Linked DNA regions of Homo sapiens. The protein of the gene in region 5 purifies or fractionates together with the protein of the main gene of each other region. This does not show direct contact. Each region holds a gene or a part of one and is shown on either strand. Other genes may lie near its edges. The genes, in order: NRXN3, NRP1, SDC4, GPC4, HADHA, AGRN and KPNB1.

Region 1 (4,451 bases), on a different chromosome or scaffold from region 5:
TTGATGGTGCCAGAGCCCATGTCAAGCAGCAAGTACAGGTTGCCATCGAGGAGTTCCACGGCAAAGAAGTCTACTTTTGTATTCTTCTGGCTCCGAGCATCCTTCCTCTCTTGGGGCTTTCCATGAGTGAAGAGGATCAGGCCATTGGGCTCTGTGGTGCGGAAGTCAAAGGAGATGGAGCCCATACGTTTAGTGTTCCACTTGGGCAAGCTGATGTAAGCCTCTGGGGTCTCAAAGTTGATGGGGTCCAGTGTGGCCACATTCTCACACTTAAACACAACTTCGCCATAGATTTTCATCTTGGTGTCCGCAATCCGGGCCAGGCGAGACAGCTCCAGACGGATGTCATTATTCTTATAAACAACCTGTCAAAAGCCAAACAAAAGTGCCATGTGAATCAATCTTGCAAACAGTATCCATCCATCACTCACTGGGCACCTGGAAAAATGACCCAAAAAGAGGCTTCAGGACATAGCCCAAAACAACATGAGAAACAATGAGACACAGGAACCAAAAAGGTATCTGAAGAAACATCTGATGTGCACACAAGCTCCAAAAAAGCCTCTATATTTCTACAGAATTTCTTTTGTCTCCTGGCCAATTTCTTGTGTTGTCAGAAAGTTATACAACATAAGCTTGCAAATAAAAATCAAGAGAGATCGAGTTGCATGGATTCACATACTTCATACAAAGTGATTTACTGAAGCACCCTTAGTAAAATACCAGAAACAACCTAAATGACCATCAATAGCAGATGGCACAGCGTTATAATGGAATATTAGGCAGGCCTTGCAAACAAGGTATTGCTTTTGGTTTTGATGTGGAAGCTCTCCAGGTCACATTGTTAAGTGAAATTGTCAAGGAACAGGATAGAGGGTGCATTATGTTATCATTGTGTAAAAGTGTGGGGGCGTGGGGGCATTATATGTATATATGCTCCAGTAAGCATAAAGTCTCTTTGGAACTATAAAATTGTCATTGGGGAGTATATTTGCGGGATTAATATTCTGGAGTGGGAGGGTGACTTACTTTTCACTGTGCCCTCTTACAGTGTTAGACTTTTTTTCAACCATGTGGATATATTACTTGAAAGAAAAGAGTAAGTGTTAAAAGCTGGTGGGGACAGAGGTCTGTTTTTGTTTTTATTTTTTGCACATTGCATGTGCCCTCTGTACAGTGGTAGAATGAGACACCCTGAAGCCCTATTTCAGCCAGTCAGTCAAGGACATTGATTTAGTTGAGAGTCTGATTTTACAAAGAATACTGAACCAGATACTAATTCACCTTGCAAGGGGGTCCAGCAGAGCTTTCTGCCTCCATGCCCTACCCAAGGTTAGTGTACACTTCTGCAAAGCCATGGCCACTGTCCTGCAGAGTGGGTAGGTAGGTGGAGAACGTGAGGATGGCAGTTAAAAAAATCTGTTATGACTGTCTAACAGCCACTATGGAAAACAGTGTGGAGATCCCTTAAAGAACTAAAAGTAGAACTACCATTTGATCCAGCAATCCCACTACTGGGTATCTACCCAGAGGAAAAGAAGTCATTATAAGAAAAAGATACTTGCACAGGCATGTGTATAGCAGCACAATTTCCAATTGCAAAATTGTGGAACCAACCCAAACGTTCATCAATCAACAAGTGGATCAAGAAAATGTGATATATATATATGAATACTACTCAGCCATAAAAAGGAATGAATTAATGGCATTTGCAGTGACCTGGATAAGACTGGAAACTATTATTCTAAGTGAAGTAACTCAGGAATGGAAAACCGAACATTGTATGTTCTCACTGATATGTGGGAGCTAAGCTATGAAGACGCAAAGGCATAAGAATGATACATGGACTTTGGGGACTTGAGGGGAAGGGTGTGATGAGGGTGAGGAATAAAAGACTACAAATAGGGTGCAGTGTATACTGCTTGGGTGATGAGTGCACCAAAATCGCACAAATAACCACTTAAGAACTTATTCATGTAACCAAACACCACCTGAACCCCAATAACCTATGGGAAAAAAATCTGTTATGACTTTCTAAACCAGGTATAATCCATCTAAAAGCAGAAATTAATCTTTCTCCATGAAATTAGAATTTCAAAAAAGTTTTACTCTTATTTGAACTGAAATTTGATACAGTACCCTGGAATGGTTTTTGGCGCTCTGATCTCTGAGCAATGTCGTATCCATAAAAACTTAATAAGCAGAAAACAATGGAAGGGAAATAGACAAGGATCTGAGTATTGAGCGTCCCAACTATTTTCCTATTTTCTTTATATTACCTTATTCAAATTCTAAGTCAGGACCCAGATTTAGGTTTGAATTCCACATTTACTACTTACAAGCTATGTGACTTTGGCAAAGTAAATTTTCTGAGTCTGTTTCCTCTCCTGAAATTGGGAACATAGGAATAAACAAACTATTTATTTTGTAATAATAAAATGATTTAAAACATGTGAAGCACTTAGGAATGCAATATCATAAGGGCACAAAAGTCGCAGCTATTTGGAGGGTTATTGTTAATCTCATTTCGCTATTTCCACAGCCCTGAAAAGGTTGCATTATCATCTCCAAAACAACAATGGCTAATTTCTAAAATAAGCCTCATCTGTCCATATCTGTGAGACAAAGTTAATTGGATGGGTCACTCCAGCACATATCATATAATCCCCAATATTTAAATGTAGAATTAGTTCCCATCTCTCATCACCAGGAGAGAATCAAGCAAAGCTGTTTGCATTCTAATGGATATTACAAGAGTGATATATAACTATGGCGAAGCATTGAAAATGACTCACTATTATGTAACCTTGACCGTGGACCTAACCATAGTCAATAACATTGAAAATAATGATACTAACACTTATTAAGCACCTACCACCAGGCACCATGGTAAGGATTTAACACCTCTCCATCCCATTAGATACAGACAACACCCATTTGAGATACCTGTAATCATTGCCTTATTTTACAGATGCAGAAACAGACACAGAGAGCAGTTAGGGAACCGGCCCACAGGCACACAGCTGATAAGTGGCAGAGCAGGACTTGAACCTAGGCATTTGGGCCCCAGGGTCCATATGCTCAGAACCAGGCCCCACTAGCAGCACCTGTGAGGCTTATCTTTAACATTACATGGAAAGTCATGCATGCTCAACTTCACAATTCAAAAGCTGAATTTTTCATTTTAGCTAAACTGGGCTGACCATGTGCAAAGGGAAATATTGCAGGATCCTCAGGCAATCACTCAAGTGAGTAAACCAGAAAAGAAATCATAAAAGTTTAATGAGTGTCAGCTTCTCCTTTCTAACCTTCACTATTATACCTTAGCATGTGAGAACTCTTTGTCATAAACAAACTTTGGCTTTTTCTGCATTTGGGTTAAATGCCTGTGACTAGAGTTCCTAGTAAAGGTTAATTATTAATGTATAACAATAGGTCATCCCAAAGGGACAGAAGGAGGTTTGGCTCCATGGAACAATAAATAGAAAGAGAGATCAGGCATTGCTACAGCAGGCTGGGGACAGAATAAAAAGGAGGGAAAAAAAAGCCTTTTAACAAGATACAAGAGCAGTGAAGAGGAACTCTTCTGTGAGAAGGGTACCTAACTGAGACTGGGAGAGAAGGTGAATAGCCGGAATGAAGATTTCTGAAGACATAGGTAAGAGAAGCAAGGGCCAGAAACTGGCCAGACAGAGATAACCAGACTTCTCTCAAAGGCTCTTTGAGGGTGAGTGCTCTATCTACTCCATGGCCCTGAAATTACCTGTCTATTTATATGGAGTTTTCACTGTTGTGAATAAAAAGCCAACACCACTCTCACTGACAGCTGAATAACCCTTCTGAGTCCCATTTTATTTATTCCAAAGGTAAGAGCCTCGATATCTGTTCCACAAACTGTCCCTCTTTCCCAGCTCACAGGGCTGTTGTCAAGATCAAGTGGGATGTTAGACATAGTAGGACACAGACAATTCTAAACCGGCACACAAACCTAGGAAGAAATAATCCTATATCTTCATCTCCCATGGTGTTGGGGTTCTGTTGGAAATGGATAGGGTCCTGAATTGAGGTTCTGTGAAGGTTTATCTACCAAGAGGAAAAGGACAGGAGGGCAAGGGACTTGTAGCCCAGTGATGCTCAACTGGGACTCTCCATTGTTAATATCTTCACCTTCCCCACCTGCTCTGTGCAGAACCACAGCCACAGCCACGCAGAAGTGTACTGGCACCCTGGGTCAGCATGGAGGCAGGAAACCCTGCTGGACCCCCTTACAAGGCAAATTATTGTCTGGTACAATGTTCTCTGTAAAATCAGACTGTCAACTAAATGAATGTCCCCAAATGGCTGGCTGAAATAGGAAGAGATGTGGCATCAAATGACAGAAAGCAGCCTTGGCTGACAAGTCGCCTCGGTGAGGAGCAATTAAAGACAAAGTAGAAACGGCTCCCCATGGG
Region 2 (4,451 bases), on a different chromosome or scaffold from region 5:
TCGAAGGATGGAAATTCTGACACAATGCTATAACACTGATGGCCCTTGAAAACATTATCCTAAGTGACATAAGCCAATCACAAAAAGACAAATACAGTATGAGGTCCCTAAAATGGTTGAATTCACACAGACAGAAAGTGGAGGTGGTCACCAGAGGCTGGGGGCAGGGGGACTGGGAGTTGTTGCTTAATGGGTGTAGAGTTTCAGTTTTGCAAGATGAGAAAGTTCTAGAGATTGGTTGCACAATATACACATACTTAACACTGTTGAACTGCACACTAAAAAGGTTAAGATGGGAAATTGTATATTATATGTATTTTATCACAATTAATTTTTTTTTTTTGAGACGGAATCTCACTCTGTCACCCAGGCTAGAGAGCAGTGGTGCAATCTCAGCTCACTGCAACCTCTGCCTCCCGGGTTTAAGCAATTCTCCTGCTTCAGCCTCCAGAATAGCTAGGACTACAGGCACACGCTGCCACACCCTGTTAATTTTTTGTATTTTAGTAGAGATGGGGTTTCACCGTGCTGTCCAGTCTGGTCTCGAACTCCTGAGCTCAGACAATCCGCCCGACTCGGCATCCCAAAGTGCTGGGATTACAGGCATGAGCCACTGAGCCTGGCCCACAATAAAAATTTATAAAAGAAACAAAGCACTTAAACTAGGGGTAGGTTTGAGATGGGGGGAGGGCAGACCCAAACGACTGAGTGGTATCTGCAAGGGGTTCTGAGCGCTGGCTGGATGGCTGCTGTCAGCCTTGGGCTTCCCCGTCTCCTGTCTGCATGTTGAGCTGTCTGTCCATCCCTACAGCCAGGGAATGGGACCAGCAATGCAATTCTTTTGCATGTTATCTCAGACATCACTTTTCATGCCATATTCCTGTCTTCCTAGAATCAAGGGTCTTACTGACCCCATCACACACCTCCTCTAATGTCATGGCTGGAAGGAAATAAGAAGCCCTTCCTCGGGAGAATGCCAGAGGCCCTTGATTGAAGTCAAGGACATAAGGGATGACCTCCTCCCAGTCCCCAGCCCTCACCTTCGCCTTGCGTTTGCTGTCATCCATGATCATCTTCCAGTCCGAGCCGTTGTTGCTGTACCCGATCTTGAACTTCCTCATGAACACCTTGTTCTCTCGGTGCTTCCCACCCTGAATGATGATGCCCCTCACGATCTTCTCCTCCCCCAGGTCTATTTGGAGCCACTCATTGATGTAGGAATGAGGTGCGGGTGGAAGTGCCCAGCCAGAGCGACTGGTTACCAGGCGGATGTTTTCAGGCATCCAGTTTCTGTCCCCTTGGTTGGATGATGTGATCTGGGAGTCAGAAATAAGTCCAGACACCATACCCAACATTCCAGAGCAAGGATAATCTGGGAAGTGAAATGAAACAGATAATGTAAAATGATTTCCTGGGCGACTCCATGCTAAGAAATAAAATACAACATATGGAATAAAGACATGATTTTGTACCCAATCATATACAATTTTCAGTCTCTGGATTATTTTACAGTAAATCTTTCCTCCCTCAAACCTTCCTCCTGCTCTGTCAGAATTCCCGTCTCTAAACTCACATCCCAGTAAGGCAAATCTTCAATAAGAACATACATTTCCCCCGCTTTGACATCTTCTAAGTTTAACATTCATATTTCAGTCTCTTTGGTATCCAGAATTCATCCCTGGATCAAGTACTGGCCCTGCTTAAGAGAAGTTCATAGTTTATGATGGATTGGAGATATGCATAGAAGTCAATCCGATAGCAGGAAGGTTGCTAAAACAAAGGTAAAGAGACAGTGATGCAGAGGTAAAGAGAACGAATGCATACTCAGCCTGCAGAGGTAATAGAGGACCTCCCAGGGGAGGTGGCATTTGAATTGAGTGTGGGAGAATAGTGACCATGATCCCCCACAACTGTTCTCCCCACCCCTATTTCTAATTGCATTGGGGACTTTCCACATGAATGTCTCACTGTCATCTCAAATGTACCACAAGCAGACTAAGACAGTCCTTTCCCCTGGATACTGCATCTTTTCACTGAACCCTGTCTTTTAATTGGTGGCATCACCAATCATCCACTTCCTGCCTAGTCATCTCGTCATTTCCGTTTTGCTGCCAAATCCTGTTGTTTTTATTAAGTACAAGAAAGCAACAGAACTCTTGTTGCTACCTTCCTTTCTTCTGGATTTATCCTGATCCGAGCGCTCTGGCCAGGGTGCTACATCAGCTCTTGGTTGGCCTCCCAGACCCCACTTTGAATCTCCACTACACCAACTGCTACTTAAATTTTCAGAAAATGTTGTTTTAAGCATGTCATTCTCATCCTCAAAAATCTCCACTGCTAAGTGAAAGAAGCCCAACAAAAAAAGGACAAATATGGTCTGATTCCATGGATAGGAGTAGCCTATCACTAGATCAGTCAGATTCGTAGAGACAGAAAGCAAAATGGTGGTTGCCAGGGCTTGGGGGAAATGGAGATTGGGAGAGTTAGTGTTTCATGGGTGCAGAGTTTCAGTCTGAGACAATTATAAAATTCTGGAAATAGTGGTGATGCTTGCACAGCAATGTGACTGTACTTAATGCGACAGAATTGTACACTTAAAAATGTACAATGATAAAATTAAAATGGTTAAAAGTGGTTGAAAATTGTTAAAGCGGTAAATTTTATGTTATGTATATTTTACCCCGACAATAGAAAAGAGATATCTTTTGAAAATGTACCATGGTTTTCCATTATTGATAGGAAGATATCAAAACTCGATCTGGCATTCAAGACCCTCATTTTGACTTCATCCCATTTGCCTAATTTGATTTTCTATTACTGACAATACATCTCAGTTAAGCAATTCTCTTCTCATACAGTCTAGACGTCATCCTCATCATTGCCTTTGCTCAAAACCCAGCTTAAGACTCATGAAGAGAACTTTTCAAGCTACTCTAGCTTTTATTCTGAGCTCTCCCTTCTCAGAAATATGATGTAAGTAGCACAGAGCTCAGCATTCCACTGCTCTCTAAGGCTTTAAGATTGTTAGTCATGTACCCACAGCTAGATTATAAGATCTTCAAAGGCAATGAACAGCATCATAGACCTTTTTATGTCTTCTAAAGCAGCCCAAGGAGCTTCTGAGCACAAGGAGAGTATCAGTTGTTGATGAATTCAACGCTGGCTTAATGACAAAATGTCCAACACTTCAAGTATTTTCCTTTAGAAACTGTACATCCTAATCAAGAACATGTGCAAGAATGATAACCTATTTTTCTTTGAAGCAACTCAATTCTGCGTTATATAATAAAAATTTAGCCTAAAAATATAACTACCCCTAAGTGAGAGGCAAACATCTAATGCAATTAAACTAAGTCCACATTATCAGCTGAACCTTAAGAATTCATTACTCAGATACTTTCCACATGAGTTCTATGGTCCAGATCATGTCGTTTCTTTACTCAGACATTCAGTGCCTTCTTGTCTAGAAATTACGCACGTCATTTTCAGTCAGGCATGCAGGCCTTCCATGTCATGTCCTTGCAAGGCCTCTCCCCATTCACTCCTTTAACCAGTGCCAATTGGCATGAAGAACTTCCTTACTTCTGGGAGTTTGGGAGCTTTCTTTCTGTTCCCTCCACAAGGAATTCCCTGTCATGTTACCCTTTTCCATTATCTGAACTGCTTAAAATCCTGACCTGTTTTCAAATGCCACATCGTTTACTCAGTTTTTCTGTTCTCTGCAACTGGACACAGTTTTCCATTTCTGGGCCTCTTCACACCATTTTATCTGCATTTCCCTTCTTTCTTTCTTTCTTTTTTTTTTTTTTTGAGAAGGAGTCTCGCTCTGTCTCCCAGGCTGGAGTGCAGTGGGGCGATCTTGGCTCACTGCAAGCTCCACCTCCCGGGTTCACGCCATTCTCCTGCCTCAGCCTCCCGAGTAGCTAGGACTCCAGGCGCCTGCCACCACGCCCGGCTTATTTTTTGTATTTTTAGTAGAGAGGGGTTTCACAGTGTTAGCCAGGATGGTCTCGATCTCCTGACCTCGTGATGCCTGCCTCGGCCTCCCAAAGTGCTGGGATTACAGGTGTGAGCCACGGCGCCTGGCCCCTCTACACCCCGGCCTTTTTTTTAATTTTTATTTTTAGAGACAGGGTCTCACTCTGTCACCCAGGCTGGAGTGGAGTGGTGTGATCATGGCTCACTGCAGCCTTGAACTCTTGGCCTCAAGCAATCCTCCCACCTCAGTCTCCTGAGTAGCTAGGACTACATGTGGATGCTACCATGATTGGCAATTTTTTTTTTTTTGGTCTCGCTATGTTGCCCAGGCTGCTCTCAAACTACTGGGGTCAAGAGATCTTACCATTTTGGCCTCCCAAAGTGCTGGGGTCACAGGCTTGAGCCACCATATCCAGCCCTCAAATGCTGATGAGCACATTTAGTTCTTTGGAATGCTGCTTTCTGCCTCCCCA
Region 3 (4,451 bases), on a different chromosome or scaffold from region 5:
GACGATCCCTTGAGCCTAGGAGGTTGGGGCTGCAGTGAGCCAAGATCATGCTACTGCACTCCAGCCTGGGTGACAGAGTGAGACCCTGTCTCAAAACAAAAAAGGAAAAGTAGCAGCTTAGAAGTGGGGATGGGGTGGGAGGGGGCATGAGTGGGCAGAGATGTAGTTGGGAAACCAAGAACAAGTCCCTGCTTCAGTGGGGGTGGGGGCGGGTGAAGGGCCCAAGGCCTCTAGGCCAGACAGCTAATAAGTGTCCCTCCTATGTGCAGAGAGGTGTTAATGATTGCAAGTTTTAGCTTTGCAAGTTTTAGCTTTGGAGTCACATGGTCCTGAGTTCAAGCCTCCATCCTGTGTGAACTGAGCTTCAGTTTTCTAATCTGTAAAATGGGAATAATAAAGATAGTACATCAGTGTTGTGGGGACTGAACTGACTTAAAGCTTTTGGCACCTACCAAGCACTCAGTACGTGTGTGTTTGGTTTAAAAAAAAAATAAATTTTATGGCCGGGCACGGTGGCTCATGCCTGTAATCCCAGCACTTTGGGAGGCCAAGGCAGGCAGATCACGAGGTCAGGAGTTTGAGACCAGCCTGGCCAACATGGTGAAACCCCGTCTCTACTAAAAATACAAAAATTAGCCAGGTGTGGTGTCGAGTGCCTGTAATCCCAGCTACTTGGGAGGCTGAGGCAGGAGAATTGCTTGAACCCGGGAGGCAGAGGTTGCAGTGAGCTGAGATCACGCCATTGCACTCCAGCCTGGTGACAGAGCAAGACTCTGTCTTGAAAAAAAATAAAAATAAAAAAATAAATTTCATTATGTGCATACAACATGATATTATGGGATACATATAGATAGTAAAAATGTTACTACAGTGGAGTTAAGTAATATATCCATCATCTCACATAGTCGCCCAGGAAATGTTTTAATATTGCAGTTAGAGTTTTCTTTCTCAAAAGTTAATTCCCTGGGGATCTTGTTAAAATGTAGATTTTGGCCGGGCGCGGTGGCTTACACCTGTAATTGAAGCACTGTGGGAGGCCAAGGCAGGCGGATCACAAGGTCAAGAGATCGAGACCATCCTGGCCAACCAACATGGTGAAACCCCGTCTCTACTAAAAATACAAAAATCAGCTGGGTGTCATGGTGCACCCCTGTAGTCCCAGCTACTCGGGGGGCTGAGGCAGGAGAATCGCTTGAACCCAGGAGGCAGAGGTTGCAGTGAGCCGAGATGGCACCACGGTACTCCAGCCCAGGCGACAGAGAGAGACTCTGTCTCAAAAAAAAAAAAGTAGATTTTGATTCAGTCAGCCCTGAAATTCTACATTTCTTCTTCTTTTTTTTTTAACCAATGAATTATTTTTACTCTTTTTAAATAAGTGAAATATTAGCTTTAATGTTTTCTGATCATGACAATATTTTTAGATAAGAACATTTTAAACATTCAACAGTAAGAGACTATTGAAAATAAATGAAATTCATTGAATAGAAGTAATTAAAATAATAATGTAACTCTTTAAGCATTGTAATGGAAAGATGTTAATGATATATTGTTACGAGCCCATTATTGGGAAAAATGTATTTAGGAATACGTATGGAGGGAATTTATTTATTTATTTTTTTGAGACGGAGTCTTGTTCTGTCGCCCAGGCTGGAGTGCGGTGGTACCATCTTGGCCCACTGCAACCTCTGCCAACCGGGTTCAAGTGATTCTCCTGCCTCAGCCTCCCAAGTAGCTGGGATTACAGGCGCGTGCCATCACCCGTGGATAATTTTTGTATTTTCAGCAGAGACGGGGTTTCACTATGTTGGCCAGGCTGGTCTCGATCTCCTGACCTCAAGTGATCTGCCCGCCTTGGCCTCCCAAAATGCTGGGATTACAGGCGTGAGCCACCGCGCCTGGCCTTGAAATTCTACATTTCTAACCAGCTCTCAGGTGTTGCTATTGGTTTTTGGATCCACACTTTGCAGAGCAAGGGTTTAGAGCTGATGAAGCCTCTGCCCAGCTGCCAGCTCACACATTCCTGTGAAAGAGCCAGGGGGTGGGTCTGAGGAGCCCCATTTTACAGATGAGATGACTGAAGTAGGGGTGGGGAAGCTCGCTTGCTGGACATTGAGCATTTGGAAGCTGGTTGTAAGGTGGAGCTCCCACCAGTCCTGGCTGAAGGGGTCATTTTCCTGGGGTAATGGACCTCACTCACACAGCTATTCTGACCTTACAGATGACTTGGAAGACTCCATGATCGGCCCTGAAGTTGTCCATCCCTTGGTAAGTAGCTACATGCTTCTGCCTCTTCCACTTTGCTCCTCTATAGCAGACCTATTGGGAGAGGCAGAAAATACAGCCCCCATAGGCAGAATAAGTGAGGGGTCTTACCCCACTATGCGGGAAGGCTTTTTAAAAATCTGGCCCTGGGGTGGGCATGGTGGCTCAGGCCTGTAATCCCAGCACTTTGGGAGGCTTGAGGTCAGGAGTTCAAGACCAGCCTGGGCAACACGATGAAACCTGTCTCTACATAAAATACAAAAATTAGCCAGGTGTGGTGGCATGTGCCTGTAGTCCCAGCTACTTGAGAGGCTGAGGTGGGAGAATGGCTTAAGTCCAGGAGGCAGAGGTTGCAGTGAGCCAAGATTGTGCCAGTGCACTCCAGCCTGGGTGACAGAGCCAGACTGTGTTAAAACAAACAAACAAACAAACAAATCTGGCCCCAGGCTCATTTTGTAGGTTGCTGGTAGGCCATCCTCCCTGCAGGGATAGTCACCGTCAACACCAACTCCTTTTCTCTACATTTATAGCTATTTCCTAGCATTGATAGAAAAGTATATATATAGGCCGGGCACAGTGGCTAATGCCTGTAATCCCAGCACTTTGGGAGGCTAAGACGGGCAGATCACCTGAGGTCAGGAGTTCGAGACCAGCCTGGCCAACATGGTGAAACCCTATCTCTACTAAAAATACAAAAAATTAGCCTGGCACAGTGGCGTGCGCCTGTAGTCCCAGCTACTTGATTGGGAGGCTGAGGTAGGAGGATCGCTTGAACCTGAGAGGCAGAGATTGCAGTGGGCAGAGATTGCACCATTGCACCCCAGCCTGGGCGACAGAGACTCCCTCTCAAAAAAAAAAAAAAAAAGTATATATATATAATTCTATGAACTGCGTTTTTCACTTAGACTGGTCATGAGTATTTCCCTGCATAATTTAATGCTCTTGTCATTTTTATAGGCTGCGTAATAGTTTACCTGATTCCCTTTATTGACGGAAAAATGGCTTATAATTTGTTAACATTTTAAAATTATAACACTGCAGCAAACATCTTTTTTATTTTTGCAAAGCAATAACAAGTTTATTAAGAAAGTAAAGGAATAAAAGAATGGCTACTCCATAGGTAGAGCAGTGGCATTGGCTGCTGGTTGCCCATTTTTATGGTTATTTCTTGATTATATGTTAAGCAAGGGGTAGATTATTCATGAGTTTTCCAACAAAGGGGTGGGCAATTCCCAGAACTAGGGGCTCCTCCCCTTTTTAGACCATATAGAGTAACTTCCTGACTTTGCCAGGGCATTTGTAAATTGCCATGGCACTGATGGGAGTGTCTCTTAGCATGCTAATGTAGTATAATTAGCATATAATGAGCAGTGAGACCAACAGTTTCATTGCCATCCTGTTTTTGGTGGTTTTTGGCAAGCTTCTTTATTGCAACCTGTTTTATCAGCAAGGTCTTTATGACCTGTATCTTGTGCAGACCTCCTATCTCATTCTGTTACGTAGGATGCTTAACTTACTGGGAATGCGGCCCAGCAGGTCTCAGCCTTATTTTACCCAGCCCCTATTCAAGATGTAGGCACTCTGGTTCAAACACCTGACATTTTCCCCCTCCCTTTTGTAAGAAAACCCTTAATCCTAAGGGTTGCAGAGGGACAAAGATCCATCTTCTATAACTTCTTCATGCTGAATAGGGTGATGATATTCCTGCTTAACTATTAGGGCCTCTTGTATCCATGGTAGAGAGGGGTTCAGTCAGAAAGGGCCAGTATGGTGAGGGCCATTCATAACTCTTAGTTCTGACAAAAGGTGATATCCAAAGTCCTCCAATCAGTGCTGCAGTCCATTTCCTTTGATTCGGGAGTCTCCTCCGTCTCATCCCTTCTGTGGTTCTCCAGAAAGATGTTACCAGAAAGGGGTCCCGATCCAGACCCCAAGGGAGAGGGTTCTTGGATCTTGCACAAGGTAGAATTCAGGGTGAGTCCATAGAGTAAAGTGAAAGCAAGTTTATTAAGACAGTAAAGGAATAAAAGAATGGCTACTTCATAGGCAGAGGAGCTGCAGCAAGCATCTTTTACACGTAGTCTCTGAAGAGCTCCTTACAATAGAGTTTCCAGGGCAAAACTGCCACCTTAAAGGGCAAGCGATGTCTAAGGTTTTGCCAAATTGCTTCCAGAGTGGTTGCTCTAGAA
Region 4 (4,451 bases), on a different chromosome or scaffold from region 5:
TTAAAAGCCACTTTTACAACTCCATGAGGACTGTACTCCAGCATTTACATGGATACAAGCCTATAATCATAAACACAACTGACTTTCAGGCGGGAAATATCAAAAAGACACTTTCTCAGTGAGTGGCTCATGCCTATAATCCCAGGGCTTTTGGGGGGCTGAGGGTGAGAGGATCGCTTGAACCCAGGAGTTTCAGGTTACACAGAGCTATGATTGTGCTGCTATACTCCAGCCTAGGTGACAGAAAGAGACTCTGTCTCCAAGAAAAAGGCATTTTCTCATTATTAAAACCTGGCAGCCACTGTATCTATTACCTTCAGAAATGCCACCATTAGTTTGAGGGAACATTCACTTGCAGTAATGTTTTTACTATTCTCAAAGTAGTTGAGCGTAGTCAGGATTCTGACAAACACTAAATAGCAAACACTTAAACAAACAAATTTCATAGCTGCCAATTACAACATTCCTTGTGACTGGAAGCTAAGCTATCTCCAGCAACACAAATATGTTAACCACTTGCTCACCTATGAAATTGTTCCATTCAAAATCGAGATCCCCTTGGTTGGCCAAACAGCCTCTCATGATGTTTGAGCAGTAGTTGTAACATGGCTTCACAGTCACGAGACCCCGGCAGTGGGAGCAGTAGATCATCTTCAACAGGGCATGGGTACACTGGGCTGTGGGGTTTACCTAATGTGTGAAAAGAAAAAAAGACAGTAGTGGCGGGGCTAAAATAGAGACAGAAATTGCTTCTATCACATTGACACTGAAGGCTTGGCCATGAACTTAAGAATGAGTTGTGATTGATCACAATTAGTAAGCCTGGACTGCCTCCTGAAGACATAGATTAGATAAAAGATACATGTTGGGACAGGGGAGAGGAGGGAGATGACCCAAAACAAACAAGGTGCACCAACTCCCACCCTGTAAACACCCATTCCTCCCCCACCCCCTTCCCTCCTGGAGTCTCTCTCTCACACACACATAAATTGCTCAATTATCTCAAAATCCTTTTACAAATAACTATGCAGGGTGAGCCATGAGATGCAGTGGAGGAGACTATCTTCATGTGCCCACCATGCACGTCCTGCTAATAGCCTCAACCATCAGTGTTTGTCTTTGCCAGACTGGAACAGAAGCACATCTTCTTCTGCATTACATTGACTACAAGGCTGTCCTTTGAACCCTAACCCCAAATTAAGGTTTAGAAGGGTACCTACGGTGTCTTCTGTTCTGTGCCAAGAGCTGTGCAGAAGGCAAAGTTAATATATTCTACAAGGCAGAATATGAGTAATCTTAAACTTAGGGGGTGTGTGAAGGTTTTCCAAGGCTTGGGAGTACTAAAGCACAGAGTGTTCACAGAACACTTGATGAAAGAGGTGGGGCTTTGGTTAAATTTTCGAGAAAGGGGCTGGACTTAAGTGGTCAAACAAAGGGAGAGCATCCTGAGTTAAGTTCAATGAAATGAACAAAACCTGTAGGAGAGTACAGGACATGTCACTGCATCTCAGAATGGGGTTGGGGAATTGCGGGAAATAAGGTCAGGTGCACAGGAGTATGCGTGTGGCCAGAATTTAGAGGGGCTTAAACATCAGGCAGAAACTGGGATACCAGTTGCCAGGCACGGTGGCTCACGCCTGTAATCTCAGCATTTTGGGAGGCCGAAGTGGGCGGATCACAAGGTCAGGAGTTCGAGACCAGCCTTGCCAGCATGGTGAAACCCCGTTTCTACTAAAAATACAAAAATTAGCCGGGCATGGTGGTGTGTGCCTGTAGTCCCAGCTACTCAGGAGGCTGAGGCAGAAGAATTGCTTGAACCTGGGAGACGGAGGTTGCAGCGAGCCGAGATCTCACCACTACACTCCAGCCTGTGTGACAGAGTGAGACTCTGTCTCAAAAGAAAGAAAGAAAGGAAGAAAGGAAGAAGGAAAGGAAAGGAAAGGAAGAAAGAAAAAGAAAGAAAGGAAGAAAGGAGAAACAAACAAACAGGGACACCATATGGCAGGACACATGGGGCTATGACTGGAAGTTTGTGAGGAAGGAAAGGAAGAAAGACAGAAACATTACCCAAGTCAGATTGGGCTGGCTGTCCTCTCCAGAGAAATGGGACTTCATTTCATCTAGTTTTATAAAGTGAAATTATTTGGGGTGTAGAAGAGCTGATTCCATCCGGTCACTTGTTTTCCTCAATGCTTAGAAAGGATTGGGGCTAGGTATAGCATTCTAGCAGCTAATTAAAAGTTCCTGTCTCCTCTTTCTCTCTGCCCCACCCTCCTCTTTTGGAGTCAGTATCAGAGGATTAGTGCATTCTTCTGTGTAAGTACCCACCAGTTCTGCTAACACAGACTTTTGGAGGCAGATACCACCACAGGGAAGAGATGCTGGGATGCAGGGCAGCCCGGCAATGCACTTCACCTGCTCTGGAGTGTTACTTTGGATATCACTTATCAGCAGTGCCCTTAGGAACAGGAACAGGGGATTAGTGGTGTCAGGAGAAAAAAAACAGTCAGGCTCCTACGTGATGCATGTGCACATCCATTCCCCTCATCCCAAACAAGGCTCTAGCCTAAAAGGGGGGAATACGTGTAACAATAAAATGGTAATTGTATACACTGCCCTACCAAGAATTAAGATTTTTCCACAGTTTTAACCATTCCCAAATGTTTTCCTAGGCACTAAATTAGTCCTAACTATGTATTAATGTACAGTAAAATTTTGGCTAACCAATATACCCTGGAGGAATGGCCTTTTCTGGATAGCCAGATTTGCTGGACAGCTGAAAGTTCATTCCTTTAAAGTCACAGATTGTTAAGACTTCCCTACATGTCCCCCTCTCCTTTTGTAAAGGAGCAAACAGGACTGGAGGGGGGAGGTGGCCTGAGAAGCATAGGATCACAGAAGTCTTAGAGTTGGAAGGGACCAGAGAGATCACTGAGTGTTGCTCTCACATTTGATAGATAAGAAAAACCAAGCCAAAGCCAAAGAGATTAAGCAACTTGCTGACAGTCACCTCACAACATCGGATTCCAGTACTATACCTTATCAAGCATTTGTGATGAAAAGATTTCCCAGATGTATCACGTTTCCCTGCCAGATGACAGGAAACTGTAATCTTAGGCACTGGTTATTTCCTACTTTAGTTTTAGTTGGGTTCCACATTGATGAGACTGCAAAATGGCTAGATTTTAAAGAGGTAAAAGTTATGCAAGTGGCTATGAAATGAAAAATCACTGAATAGCACGTGGCATTTGTTGAATATTATGCTTAAGAGGAGACAATGCCCTCGTAAGAAGAAACGTAGAAAGCTAAGGGGTCAACAAATAGTTACTGAGCACCTACTATGTGCCAGGGATTATTCTGGAATGCATTTGAATTTAGGTAACAAGGCAAGTTAAGAATTTCTATATTAGAATACAAAACCTGTTCTACAAAATACAAAGCAATTCCAATGTGGTACAGGACTTTAGGAAATGAGCAAAAATTTTAGACCCAAAATAGTTATATTCAGAAAACACTTCTTTTTTCAAAGAAGTCCTTTCTCATTCTTTTAAAAAATAACTCTAGGAAGTGGTTCATTGTATTCTTAGTTCAATTGCAAGTCAAATCATTTATGCAACAGACCTTGTAGTACCCTCCCCTAAAATAGGCTGATGGAGGCTCAAGTTTTAAAAAGAGACCAAACTAAATGACACAGTAGAGTTTTATTAAGGGAAATTATGATGCTGAGTTTGGCAGAGTTCTTCCATTTCATTATTTGGCTAAGTGCTGGCTCATGCTCTGTACATGATTTGTTGTGTAACTACTAAAAATGGTCACAGGCAACTCAGCTACAACATGCTAGGGAAACACTAAATAATACCAGAACTGAAAAGAGAGATGAGGAAGTTATAAGAAAAATGGAAAGAGAAAGGACATATAAAATATCAAAGTTAGGAAAAAAAATCTGTCTTTTGTCTCATAACCACTAGTCAGACCACCATGCACTATTTCACATGAAGGGAATTCAGAATCTGGGAAGCAAATCCGTTTTAGTGGGATGAGGCCCTAATATAAAGGGAAGAGTTTTAAAACAGTCACGAGACCTAAAGAAACAGGTCTCCCCTGCAAAGTCTCATCCCCCTAGAAGAAACAGCAATAATGCTAGCACTGCCCAGGCCTTTGGTCCCCACCCTTGTCGACCTGCCCAGGCTCAGAACAGTGAGCCCAGAGTGTCAAGGACTCTGGACTACCCTAGTGAGTAAACAAAATGGTTGCCTCTCTTTTGGAGTCTTTAAGAGCCAAAAGTATGCCACCACCATGGAAGAAAAAGCTACACAGTATATGGCACATGTTGAGTAGCCTTTATCAAAAGTGCTTGGGACAAGAAGTGTTTGGGTTTTTTTTTTTTTTTGGATTTTGGAATATTTGCATTATAATTATGGTTTGAGCATCCCTAAACCGAACACCCAAAA
Region 5 (4,451 bases):
CACTGGATGGCCGAGGCAGGAGGATCACTTCAGCCCAGGAGTTTGAGACCACCCTGGGCAACATAGCAAGACCTTGTCTCTATAAAAAATAAAAAATAGTTGGGTATGGTGATGTTCACCTGTAGTGCTAGCTACTCTGAAGGCTGAGGTGGAAAGATCACTTAAGCCTAGGAATTCAAGGTTACAGTGAGCTATGATTGCACCACTGCACTCCAGCCTGGGCCACAGAGCAAGACCTTGTCTCTCTAAAAAACAACAACAACAAACTTATAGCCAGAGGCTTAGATGTAATAAGACCTAGATGGAAGCAGTTGACAACTATCACAAATTAAGGTAAATAAGAGCCATTCCCCTTTACTAGAGTAAATTTTAGCACTCACTAACCAATGATTCAAGCTTAAGATATTTTTTCAGAATTTTCTTAGGTTGGACATTTTTCCTGAACACAAAAGTAATATATGTCAATGGTAGAAAATTTTTCAACTATAAAAAATTATAAAGAAGAAAATAATAAACATTCATAATTCAAACCTAAAGATAACCACATCTTTTTCTTGGTATCTTCCATGGGATAATCACATTTAATTCAGTTTCAATGAATAATATTTACAAAACTAAGATCATACTATATGGTTTTTTTTGAAGATAGGGTCTCATTCTGTTGCCTAGGCTGGAGTGCAGTGGCACAGTCACAGGTTAGTGCAGCTTCAGCCTCCCCAGGCTCAGGTGATCCTCCCACCTAAGCCTCCTGAGTAGCTGGGACTATAGGCGTGTGCTGTCAGGCCCGGCTAATTTTTGTATTTTCTGTAGAGGCAAGGTTCCATTATGTTGCCCAGGCTGGTCTCGAACTCCTGAACTCAAGTGATCCGCCCACCTTGGCCTCCCAAAGTGCAGGGATTACAGGGATGAGCCACCATGCCTGGCCTATATGTCTTATTTGTATTTCATTTTTTTCTTAACATTATGCAGATTTTTTCCATGCCAATAAATGTTTGTAGACCTATTTGTTTATAGCCTACATATGATTCAAACTCTGAGGATGACCCTGAGTTTCTCCTTTGAGAAGACCTATTTTTAAAGGAAGGGGTGCTTGTAGTGGGCCAAAGCTGCCTGAATAGAAAGCTACTGACTTGCTGGGAGAATGATATTTCTTACTCTCTTCTAACAGTATATTTCTGCCGGATAAGTATATTTCTTATAATCAAAATAGCATTTGATGGTGGTACGTACATCCAGTGCTTCAAATTTAAACCCTTACCTGTATATATTTCCCTTTGGCAGGTAAATACACTGAGTAAAGAGCTACATTCAGAGTTCTCAGAAGTTATGAATGAAATCTGGGCTAGTGATCAAATCAGAAGTGCCGTCCTTATCTCATCAAAGCCAGGCTGCTTTATTGCAGGTGCTGATATCAAGTAAGTTTTAGGAAACTTGAAGTCACCTTTTATCTTGGTTAATAGTGTGTTTCTTAGGCCTAATAATTTCTCCTTTTAAAAGAAAGTAGAAGTGCTGGGCACAGTGACACAGGCCTGTAAAATTGAAAATGTACGTATCAGGCTGGGTGTGGTGGTTCTTGCCTGTAATCCCAGCACTTTGGGAGGCCGAGGCAGGTGGATCACATGAGGCCAAGAGCTCAAGACCAGCCTGGCCAACATGGTGAAACCCTGTCTCCACTAAAAATACAAAAATTAGGCATGGTGGCACACGCTTGTAATCTCAGCTACTCAGGAGGCTGTGGCACGAAAATCCCTTGAACCTGGGAGGCAGAGGTTGCAGTGAGCCGAGATCACACCACTGCACTCCAGCCTGGGTGACAGAGTGAGACTGTCTTAAAAAAAAAAAGTATATACACACACACACACACACACACACACACACACACACACACAGAGTATATATATATATATATACACACACACACACACACACATCATGTGATCTAGAGAAATCTCACCCCTTGTTTATAAGAACCAGTGTACAAGGATGTTTGGTCCTGTGTAGTGTGAAATAATGAAGAATTTAAAACCAAATGTCAGTCAGTAGGAAAATGGGTAAGTAAAATGTGGACTATTCACACAATAGAATACTACAAAACAGGTAAAAGGAATTAACTAGATCCACAATATGATGTTAGAACTCAAAAACATAAGGTTAAGTTAAAAGAAAAGCAAATTGCAGAATGTTTCATACAGTATATAGTTTCTATAAATGTTTTAAAACCAAACATGGAATAATTCTTGATACTATTTATGGACACAATCGTAGTTGGTCTGGAAGGAGACACTACAAACATGAAGATGGCTGCTTTGGGGAAATGAAGTGGGTGGTAGGACTTGATTGTTAAAGGCAGCTTTACAGATGCAGCTAGTATTTTCTTTTCCTCTGCTAAATGGTGGAATGCATGCCTACATTAACTTATTTACAATTGTTTACACATACATAAGGAGGGGAAATGATATTTTAGTGTCAGTTTAATAGGTTAAAATGTTAAGTTGTCAATTCCATTAAAATATGGGTATTTGTTATGTTCTTTGTATTTTAGACAATGATAGCCAGCATTGTAGGTTTAGTAATTTGTACTGAAAGTGTAATTATTTATGTGTAGTAATCAGTCTCTTGTTAGGCACAAATAATTCAGCTAGAAGAAAAACCACTTGATAAGATAATTTTGGGTCTTCTAAAAAATTAACATTAAACAGAACATTTATAAAGTCTAACAAGACACTGATGTACCTGGCAGTAGCTACCTATATCCAGAGGAAAATACATGTAGCTTCTATGAGGCCAGCTGAGCAACTCTCAGTGTATAAAATTACAGAATATACTAGTTATCCTTGGTCAAAAGTACAAAATCCATATCCTAAGTGTGTTCACAAAATAGCAAATGAAACAAACTGAAATTAAAGGACATTGAGTGGAACATCATTGCACCTGATCATTTTTATTTACTTATTTATTTTTGAGACGGAGTCTCCCTCTGCTGTCCAGGCTGGAGTACAGTGGTGCGATCTCGGCCCACTGCAACCTCCACCTCCCAGGTTCCAGTGATTCTCTCGCCTCAGCCTCCCGAGTAGCCAGGACTACAGGAATGCAGCACCACGCCCAGCTAATTTTTGTATTTTTAGTAGAGACGCGGTTTCACCATGTTGACCAGCCTGGTCTCGAACTCCTGACCTCAGGTGATCCACCTGCCTTGGCCTCTCAAAGTGCTGGGATTACAGGCATGAGCCACCATGCCTGGCCTACCTGGTCATTTTTATTCATTAGTGGGATCTGTTAAAATGTTTTAGATTTCTCTAAACAACCTGGAAGCTTTTCTTTTGCGTCATTTTTATTGCTGTTAACTACCTGATAGTGAAATGTTTAATCTGATAGTGAAGTAATTTACCAAAGATGATTTTCCCTTGTACCAAGCTTTGTAATTTAATGATTTATTACAGAAGTAAAAATAAATTATGCAACACATTTATGTTTTCTGGATCCAGAATTTTTTTTTTTTTTTTTGAGACAGAGTCTCACTCTGTCGCCCAGGCTGGAGTGCAGTGGCGCGATCTCGGCTCACTGCAAGCTCCACCTCCCGGTTTCACACTGTTCTCCTGCCTCAGCCTCCCAAGTAGCTGGGACTACAGGCGCCCGCCACTATGCCCAGCTAATTTTTTGTATTTTTAGTAGAGACGGGGTTTCACCGTGTTAGCCGGGATGGTCTCATGGATCCAGAAGTTTAACACTCTTTATGGAGAAATGATGTTGCTGCTATTGTGCTATTTGAAGCAAAATCATTCTTAACCTTCTATTTGAAGATTTGTCATCAAATATTGATGCATGATAGGATAAGTGTATAGTGAATAAGTATTGAACCAAATAAATTATAGTTTTATCTTTTTCTCTGTTCTCTACTTTTATGGATAATGCAGCATGTTAGCCGCTTGCAAGACCCTTCAAGAAGTAACACAGCTATCACAAGAAGCACAGAGAATAGTTGAGAAACTTGAAAAGTCCACAAAGCCTATTGTGGCTGCCATCAATGGATCCTGCCTGGGAGGAGGACTTGAGGTATAGATATTCTAAAGTTATTGAGACACTGTCCAACTCATTGGTGGCATTCATCAGCTGTAAACCCTTAGGCTACTGCTTTGCCTGGAAAAAGTTTCTGGAGGAGAATCCGCTTTGTTTTTTGTTTTTTGCTTTGAGACGGAATTTTGCTCTTGTCTCCCAGGCTGGAGAGCAATGGCACGATCTTGGCTCACTGCAACCTCTGCCTCCTGGCTTCAAACAATTCTCCTGCTTCAGCCTCCCCAGTAGCTGGGATTACAGGTGTGCATCACCATGCCCAGCTAATTTTTGTATTTTTAGTAGAGATGGGGTTTCACCATGTTGGCCAGGCTGGTCTCAAACTCCTGACCTCAGGTGATCCTCCCGCCTCGGCCTCCCAAAGTGCTGGGATTACAGGT
Region 6 (3,699 bases), on a different chromosome or scaffold from region 5:
GGCCAGTGCCACATAGTCTGCCCGCTCCGTGGCCTTGCCACTCCAGAGCACCAGCCCCTGCGTGGCCTCAGTGCGCAGGCTCAGTTCAAAGTGGTTGCTCTGCAGTGCCTTCTCGCTGGAGGGCAGAGGGCAGGTCAGGGCCTCTAGGAAGGTGGCAACAGGACAGGGTGGGGGAGGCGGGAGGACAAGGGCCCCAGCTGCGGAGGCCACAAGGGCTGTGACGGGACCCAGGGGTGGCTGGTGGGCAGACACCGACAGTGGGAGGGAGAAGAGGGATGGAGACAGGGGCAGCCTGGCAGAGAGAGATCAGAGAGACGGGCGGGAGGACAGATGGGCCAGCCAGGGGTCTGCAGGCACTGCTGCCACGTGCTCACCTGTGAAGGGCCCCGGAATCCAGAGTTTCGGGGCTTAGAAGCAGGAAGAGAGGGAGGCGGGTGAGCAGGGGACAGGCGGGGCCAATGCAAACCCATCTCAACACTGTGGGGTGCAAGGAGCAGGCACCCACAGAAGACATGCGTGACCTCGAGGATCACTGGCCGCCCACCAAAGAGCCCAGCAGGGACACCTACACATGCTTGTGCGGACACGAGACACGTGAGGGTGCAGACACCCACGTGCAGACACGAGACACTTGAGGGCACAGACACCCACATGCAGACACCCACGTGCAGACACCCACGTGCAGACAGCAGGGGAGCACAGCCAAGGCTGGGCGCAGAGATCAAGGAGGTAGGCGTAGGGTGGTATGGAGTGGAGACCAGGGGCTTGGATGCCCCAGTACACACATGCATGTGTGCATGCACGCAAACCTACACACGGACACACACACCCCTCCATGTTCACACACATACACACGTGTACACGAACACACACAGACACACCTGAGTGCTCCCCACTTACACCTGTTCATACACACACACATCTACATATCCCCCCATATATACACGCATATACACGGACCCATGCACACACTCGGACACACACCTGTCTCCCCCACATATACACACACATACATGGACCCATGGACACACACTCGGACACACACCTGCGTGTCTCCCTCATATACACACACATACATGGACCCATGTGCACACACTATACACACATGGACCCATGCACACACACTCGGACACACACCTGCGTGTCTCCCTCATATACACACACATACATGGACCCATGTGTACACACTATACACACATGGACCCATGCACACACACGGACACACACATGCATGTCTCCCTCACCTATACACACACATACATGGACCCATGTGCGCACACACTCAGACACACACCTGCGTGTCTCCCTCATATACACACACATACATGGACCCATATGCACACACACACACACGGACACATACCTGCATGTCTCCCTCATATACACACACATACATGGAGCCATGCACACACACGGCCGCATAGTCACACACGCATATCTACATGTCCCCCCCACATATACACACACACATATACATGGACCCATGCACACACACAGCTGGATATTCACACACACTTGCACATCCACTCCATATACATAGACACGCACAGACACAGCTGCATGTTCACACACGCGGAAGTGCACACGGACACAGACATGCATGCATATGCGCACAGGTGTGTACAGCCTCAGTGGTGGGGGTTGGCTGTGGGGCGACCCTCGGCCTGTGCCCTGGGAGGGGCGACTGCACTTCTGAGGCAGGAAACGGCCTCTTGCAGCCAAATAGCGCCGGACCCCCATCCTCCGCCACAAGGGATGGAAAGTTCCCCGGGGGCTCCGGACTCTGCTCCCCACCAGGAAGGATGGAGGAGTGGGAGTGAGAGGGAGCGGGGGGCGCCGAGCTCTACTCACACGGGGATCTCATTGGCCAGTTCGCTTGGAAACAAAGAGACAGACAGTGAGAGGCGGGAGGACCGGGAGGTGAGAGAGAGGCGGGAGGACAGAGGTGGCAGCACCGGGCCGTCCCCTCCTGGGCCCTCCTGGTGTGGGGGTCCGGTGTCCCGCCCCGAGGGCACAGATGGAACCGACAGCCAGCAGAGGATGGCACGTTACCTCTCGGTCACAGCGTTGAGGTACTCGACAAAGGTCCGCCCGTCAAAGGCCAAGGTATCCACGTCCCCCGCTGACTTCTCCACCAGCCCTGTGAGATAGGCAGGTGAGGGTGGGGCCTCGTGGGCTCCGGGCCCATCCGGCCTCCGCCCCCTGCCCTGTGCCAGGCTCACCCTTCTCGCAGTGCGGTCCTGAGAATCCCCCGGGACACAGGCACACATAGGCAGCCTCCCTCGGGACGCAGGAGGCCCCATTGAGGCAGGGGTGGCCTGAGGCCCGGGTGCAGGGGTGACCTGCAAAGGACGTGACGTCCACCTGCCGCAGCACGTGCTCCGGGGTCAGCAGCTGGCGGCCTCCGAGGGAGACCTGCAGGGCAGGGTGAGGGCCTTGTCCCGCCTGCCACCCCGCCCGCCCCGGAGGCCCTGCTGGGACGCCCCGCCCCCACATACCAGCTGGATGGCACCGTCGAAGCCAGAGGACACGGCAGCAGCACGGGCCAGCTTGCTGAAGTCGGGAGCGCCCCCTACGTAGAGCGGCTCCTTCAGGTTGAGGACGGTGTGCGGAACCTGCGGGGACGCCAGGTAAGTGGCTGTGCAGAGCCCACCCACGGTGCAGACCCAGGGCCCAGGCACCTGCACGCACCCGCCCCACCCGCCCATTGCCTATCTAGGGGGCAGCGTTAATCACACAGAAATGGCAGGGTCCTTAGTGGGGGAGGAGCTACCCTAGGGGTTGAGGCGCCAGAGACGGTGAGCGGATGAGAGGCCGACAGTACCTTGCGGGATTTCTGGCCTCCGAAGAGCGGGTGGGGTTGCAGAGCGAGAGCAGAGAGCAGGGAGGCAGAGGAGGCAGAGGACAGGGCAGGCGGCCAAGAGAACAGGACAGAAAAACAGCTCCGTGAGCGCCGGCAGGGGCGGGGCTGCCGCCCGAGGAGGAAGAGCAGGCAGCAGCGGGAGTCCCCTCGCGGCCCAGAGCACTCACCGGGGACTCCCCCAACACACGGGGGCCGTCGCCCACACGCAGGGCACCCTTGCGGCCGTTTCGCTCCAGTGAGACCCTGGTCCAGGCTCCCAGGGTGACTGGCTCCCTGCTCCTGGTGAGGAGGGGCAGCGTGAGTGGGCTCTGTCCACCACCGGCCACGCGACCACCCAGGGCCTGAGCGACCTGCTGGTGCCCCGGCCCCGGGCCAGTGCCCCAGGCCTCCCAGAGCCACCCTTGCCGGCCCACCTGATGACCGCTGCCCCCTTGCCCAGGTCGTAGCGGAACTCCAGGCGGCGGTCCCGCAGTGCCAGCGACACGAAGTCCCCCTTGCCGTCCGTCTTCTGCCCGTTGTAGAGCAGGAGGCCGCTGGGGCCTCGTGCCAGGAACACGACCTCCAGCGCCATCTTCTCCCTGGGGTCATGGGGAGTCGGGGTGTCTTTGCTGTCCCCTCCCCACAGGAGAGACGGAGGTGGGGGCCGGCCCTTCCCCCTGCTCCTGCCCCACCGACCCCAGGTCCCGTGCAAAGGTGTGCAGGCCTCTCAGCTCCAGGTGGGAGAAGCCGTTGAAGTCAGCCAGGAAGGGCCCAGAGCCGTCCTGCCCCGAGGCTGTAGGGAGAGTCACCAAGGCCTCAGTCCTGACCCCCGGGGCCTCCTGCACCCCATGCCAGCC
Region 7 (4,451 bases), on a different chromosome or scaffold from region 5:
TGGAATATTAATCACCCTTAAAAAGCCAATTTTGACAAATGCTACCCCTTAGATGAATCTCGAGGACATCATACTAAGTAAAACAAACCAGTCGCAAAAAGACAAATATGATTCCACTTACGTAAGGTATTTCGTTAGAGTAGTAAAATACATAGAAACTGAAAGTAAAATGGTCGTTACCAGTGGCTGAGAAAGGGGGAAATGAGGAGTTGTTGTTCAGTATGTACAGTTTCAGTTTTGCAAGATGAAAAAGTTCTGGAGATTGTTTCCACAGCAATGTGAATCTACTTAACTAACTATACATTTAAAAATGATTTAAGATGGTAAATTTTATGTTATTCATTGCATTTTCAGCCAAAATGTTTACATATATATTATACATACACATACATATACATATATATATATTTTTTTTTTTTGGAGACAGAGTCTTGCACTGTTGCCCAGGCTGAAGTACAGTGGTGAAATCTTGAGCCTTGAACTCCCAGGCTCAAGTGATCCTCCCACCTCAGCTTCCCAAGTAGCTGGGATTACAGGCATGTGCCAAAGCACCTGGCTATATATCCTGTTTCTTAAAAACACCTTCCTAAGGTGGTATGAAACAGACCAATTGCTATAATTTTTATTTATTTCATTTTTCATTATTTTTTTTCCATTATAAGCCCTGTAAACACAAGAGCTCACAAAACTGGTTAACAACTCAGTTGTTCTTCTCCACAGAAATTTTTTTAGAGACAGGGTTTTGTTACGTTGCACAGGCTAGTCTCAAACTCCTGGCTTCAAGTGATCCTCTTGCCTTGGTGGCCCAAAGTGTTGGGATTACTGGATGTGAGCCCCAGCACCCGGCCTCCACAAAATCTTTAGTACAAGGCAAAAGATTCACACAATCTTAAAAGAAACCAAAGTAAACCAACATATATAGTACATACCATAATTTCTTTCTTTTATTTTTTTTATTTTTTATTTTTTTTGAGACAGTCTTGCTCTGTCGCCCAGGCTGGAATACAGTGCTGCAATCTCGGCTCACTGCAACCTCTGCCTCCCAGGTTCAAGTGATTCTCCTGCCTCAGCCTCCTGAGTAGCTGGGATTACAGGCGCACGCCACCACACCCGGCTAATTTTTTTGTATTTTTAGTAGAGATGGGGTTTCACCATGTTCGTCAGGCTGGTCTCAAACTCCTGACCTGATGATCCACCCGCCTCAGCCTCCCAAAGTGCTGGGATTACAGGCTTAAGCCACATCGCCCAGCCTATTCCTTTCTTTTTTTTAAGGGACGATATCTGACTTTGTTGCCCAGGCTGGCCTTGAATAACTGGACTCAAGCAATCCTCCCGCCTTAGCCTCTGAAGTAGCTGGAGTACCAGTATGCACCACCATGCCCTATAATTTAAAAAAACCCAACAACATTCCACACTTTGGACTGCAAAAGGAAAAACCTAAGCTTAGAAACACTTTATTTCCAAAAGCATGATGAGAAACGGCAAACACTCCATGGGGATATCTCACACAATACGAACTCGACTAAACTGGAAACAAATACTTTTAAGTAGGTGGTACTTTCTAAACCATAAACTTAAGAAAACAAAACAAAAAACTTTCATTCAACTCTTTCATCCCTTACTGTCTGAATCTATACCTTATTGTCAAAAAACTTACCTCTTTATCAAAGTTTGCTTTGGTGAACTCCAATGAGTTCAGGAGTGCATTCGTAGCAGCTAGCTTCACATTATTACTAGGCTCTTCTTTCCTCATCCCCTGGATTATGGCAGTCAGAATCTCATTGGATTTATCTTGTAGCTGCTCTGGGTCCTGTAACAAGCAGAGAAGTGCAATGAATATACAGTCAGCCCTCTGCAGCCATGGGTTCCACATCTGTGGATTCAAACAACTATGGATTGAAAATATTTAGAGGAAAAAAAATGGATGGTTGCATCTGTACTGCACCAAAAGGTGCATGTACACCTTTTTTTCTTGTCATCATTCCCTTAATACAGTATACCAACTATTAATATAGCATTTACATTGAATTAGGTATTGTAAGTATTCTAGAGATGATTTAAAGTATATGGGAGGATGTGCATAGGTTATATGCAAATACTACACCATTTTATGTAACAGACTTGAACATCTGAGGATTTTGGTACCTGAGGAGGGTGCTGGAATCAATCCCCTCCAAAAGACTGCCATAAGGAGCTTCACGACAGAAGCAGTCCTTCTTCTGTTCTTAAGAGACAGGGTCTGTATTGCCCAGACTAAAGTGCAGTGGCTATTCACAGGCACTACCACAATGCACTGAACCCTCAAATTCCTGGGTTCAAGTGATCCTCCCACCTCAGCTTCCCAAGCAGCTGGGACTACAGGTGTAAGCCACTGTGCCTGGCTTAATTGGCAGTCCTTTTAACTGTAAAGTTCACTCAAGAAAGTATCATGAATTGGTGATCTTTCCCCACCCGTTTCCATTTGGGAATAACACTGCAAACCACCTGCAAAATGTCTCATGGTACTGGCAATCCAGAACTGAACAAAACCAAGTCAAACTCATCAACTTCATCTTTGACTTCTTAGCATAATGACTCTGGGTATGAGGTAATATTCGCTTTCCTCCCCACTTCTGTGCAAATGGAGATGGCAGTCTGTTCGTATTTTCCAGGCCATCTGTACTCTAAAGTAAAGCTTCAGGGCATTTAAGGGCCAAGGCCAAGGATCGACACCTAGGCACATCTAGGGAGTCTAAGTCTGGGTCAAGTGCTGTGGGCTCCTTTGCTTCATAAAGTCTATATATTAAAATACACACCAAGAGTGGTAACCTCATCAGGAACAACAGTGCTGGGGGGGCTACATCTAAAATACTGTGTCTCCAGTGGCTAAACCAACTACATCAAATGTTGGCAAAACTTTCCGTAATGTTGTAAATGAAAATGCGCCACAACATTCATGGTACATTCGGGATCTTAAGAAAAAAGACTGGGTCAGGGATAATCCAAATGAGAATATCCTCATTTTGTAAGTCTAGAATCTAAGACTCTTCAAACATAGACTTCTGTTTTCAGTTTGCGATCCTCAAGTTTCTTTACTTTAGGGCATGATTAGCAATGTGAAGACACAGGCCTAAGGGAAATAAATCAGTCTCACTTTCAAAACTGTGCAATTTAGCTTGGCTTTCTTCGTGATTCAATAAGGTAGTACTAATATCATTGATGTCACAGCTAGAGGCAATCAGAGGTATATAAACCAGATACATTAGGCAAGCACTTACTATATCTTGGCAAATATAACCGATGGCTTCCAATGTCGACTCCTTCATGTGCTCTGTGCTGTTGGGGTTTGTGACATTGGCCACCAGCTGAGGAATGAGTTCTGGCCACTGGTTTACTGGGATCTCTGCACAAGCAATACCAGCCACACACTGTGAGGCAGAACTAGGCCGGTAAGTTTCTGTACCCAATGTCTGCAAAACCTGCACCAAAAAAAAAGACAAAAGATACAAATTTCTAACACTATTTGACCACATTTTGCCCACCACCATACTTATATTAGTGTCTCTGAATTCTTTTTTTTCTTTCTTTCTTAAGACAGGGTCTCACTATGTTGCCCGGACTGGAGTGCAGTGGCACGATCACAGCTCACTGTAGCCTCAATCTCTACGGTGCAATCTATCCTCCCGCCTCAGGCTCCTGAGTAACTGAACTACAGGGGTGGATATGCTGACATGCCCAGCTATCTTTTGTTGAGACAGGGCATCACCATATTGCCCAGGCTCAAAAAAAAAAAAAGGAAAATACAAGGCCTCAGTCAGTTGTCCAGGGTGGAGTGTAGTAGCAAAACGATAGTGCAATGGCACAACGATACTGCAGCCTTGACCTCCCAGGCCTCCCTGAGTAGCTTAGACTACAGGCACATGCCATCACACCCAGCTAACTTTTTTGGGTTTTTAGTAGAGATGGGGGTCTCCCTATGTTGCCCAGGCTGGTCTCAAATTCCTGGCCTCCCAAAGTGCTAGGATTACAGGTGTGAGCCACTGTGCCCAGGCAGCTGTCTCAGAATTCTTTTTTTTTTTGAGACAAAGTCTCGCTCGTGTCCCCCAGGCTGGAGCATGATGGCGCGATCTCGGCTCACTGCAACCTCCGCCTTCTGGGTTCAAGCGATTCTCCTGCCTTAGCTCCCCCCAGCAAGTAGCTGGGATTACAGGTGCCTGCCACCATGCCCGGCTAGTTTTTGTATTTTTAGTAGAGATGGGGTTTCACCATGTTGGCCAGGACAGTCTCAAACTCCTGACCTCAGGTGATCCACCCACCTCGGCCTACCAAAGTACTGGGATGACAGGCGTGAGCCACTGTGCCTGGCCTCAGAATTCTTATCTATAATACGGAGAAGTAGGAAAGGCTGTCAGAAAAAACCAGCCTCAGTAGCAACATCAGCATAATCAACACTGCCCTAGAACCTAGAAACA

What was found.
Region 1: the proteins of HADHA (region 5) and NRXN3 purify together in Homo sapiens (affinity purification with mass spectrometry; one large-scale study listed by BioGRID and IntAct). This does not show direct contact.
Region 2: the proteins of HADHA (region 5) and NRP1 purify together in Homo sapiens (co-immunoprecipitation; 2 studies listed by BioGRID and IntAct, with this or other methods). This does not show direct contact.
Region 3: the proteins of HADHA (region 5) and SDC4 purify together in Homo sapiens (co-immunoprecipitation; 2 studies listed by BioGRID and IntAct, with this or other methods). This does not show direct contact.
Region 4: the proteins of HADHA (region 5) and GPC4 purify together in Homo sapiens (co-immunoprecipitation; 2 studies listed by BioGRID and IntAct, with this or other methods). This does not show direct contact.
Region 6: the proteins of HADHA (region 5) and AGRN purify together in Homo sapiens (co-immunoprecipitation; 2 studies listed by BioGRID and IntAct, with this or other methods). This does not show direct contact.
Region 7: the proteins of HADHA (region 5) and KPNB1 fractionate together in Homo sapiens (co-fractionation; one large-scale study listed by BioGRID). This does not show direct contact.

What each region holds. Positions count from the first base shown.
Region 1 is NC_000014.9:78,705,131-78,709,581, reverse strand, and holds part of NRXN3 (neurexin 3), read right to left. Parts: intron 801-4,451; exon of another isoform or gene 366-800; coding exon 1-365. UniProt on the Homo sapiens protein: Neuronal cell surface protein that may be involved in cell recognition and cell adhesion. May mediate intracellular signaling. Functions as part of a trans-synaptic complex by binding to cerebellins and postsynaptic GRID1.
Region 2 is NC_000010.11:33,212,346-33,216,796, forward strand, and holds part of NRP1 (neuropilin-1 isoform a precursor), read right to left. Parts: intron 1,477-4,451; exon of another isoform or gene 1,373-1,476; coding exon 1,041-1,372; exon of another isoform or gene 893-1,040; intron 1-892. UniProt on the Homo sapiens protein: Cell-surface receptor involved in the development of the cardiovascular system, in angiogenesis, in the formation of certain neuronal circuits and in organogenesis outside the nervous system. Mediates the chemorepulsant activity of semaphorins.
Region 3 is NC_000020.11:45,330,837-45,335,287, reverse strand, and holds part of SDC4 (syndecan-4 precursor), read left to right. Parts: intron 1-2,218; coding exon 2,219-2,265; intron 2,266-4,451. UniProt on the Homo sapiens protein: Cell surface proteoglycan which regulates exosome biogenesis in concert with SDCBP and PDCD6IP.
Region 4 is NC_000023.11:133,310,734-133,315,184, forward strand, and holds part of GPC4 (glypican-4 precursor), read right to left. Parts: intron 691-4,451; coding exon 525-690; intron 1-524. UniProt on the Homo sapiens protein: Cell surface proteoglycan that bears heparan sulfate. May be involved in the development of kidney tubules and of the central nervous system.
Region 5 is NC_000002.12:26,233,819-26,238,269, reverse strand, and holds part of HADHA (trifunctional enzyme subunit alpha, mitochondrial precursor), read left to right. Parts: intron 1-1,281; coding exon 1,282-1,415; intron 1,416-3,914; coding exon 3,915-4,053; intron 4,054-4,451. UniProt on the Homo sapiens protein: Mitochondrial trifunctional enzyme catalyzes the last three of the four reactions of the mitochondrial beta-oxidation pathway.
Region 6 is NC_000001.11:1,050,169-1,053,867, reverse strand, and holds part of AGRN (agrin isoform 2 precursor), read right to left. Parts: intron 3,636-3,699; coding exon 3,539-3,635; intron 3,442-3,538; coding exon 3,277-3,441; intron 3,143-3,276; coding exon 3,031-3,142; intron 2,837-3,030; coding exon of another isoform or gene 2,825-2,836; intron 2,616-2,824; coding exon 2,499-2,615; intron 2,416-2,498; coding exon 2,223-2,415; intron 2,141-2,222; coding exon 2,053-2,140; intron 1,876-2,052; coding exon of another isoform or gene 1,852-1,875; intron 408-1,851; coding exon of another isoform or gene 375-407; intron 116-374; coding exon 1-115. UniProt on the Homo sapiens protein: Isoform 1, isoform 4 and isoform 5: neuron-specific (z+) isoforms that contain C-terminal insertions of 8-19 AA are potent activators of AChR clustering.
Region 7 is NC_000017.11:47,655,867-47,660,317, reverse strand, and holds part of KPNB1 (importin subunit beta-1), read right to left. Parts: intron 3,459-4,451; coding exon 3,258-3,458; intron 1,811-3,257; coding exon 1,658-1,810; intron 1-1,657.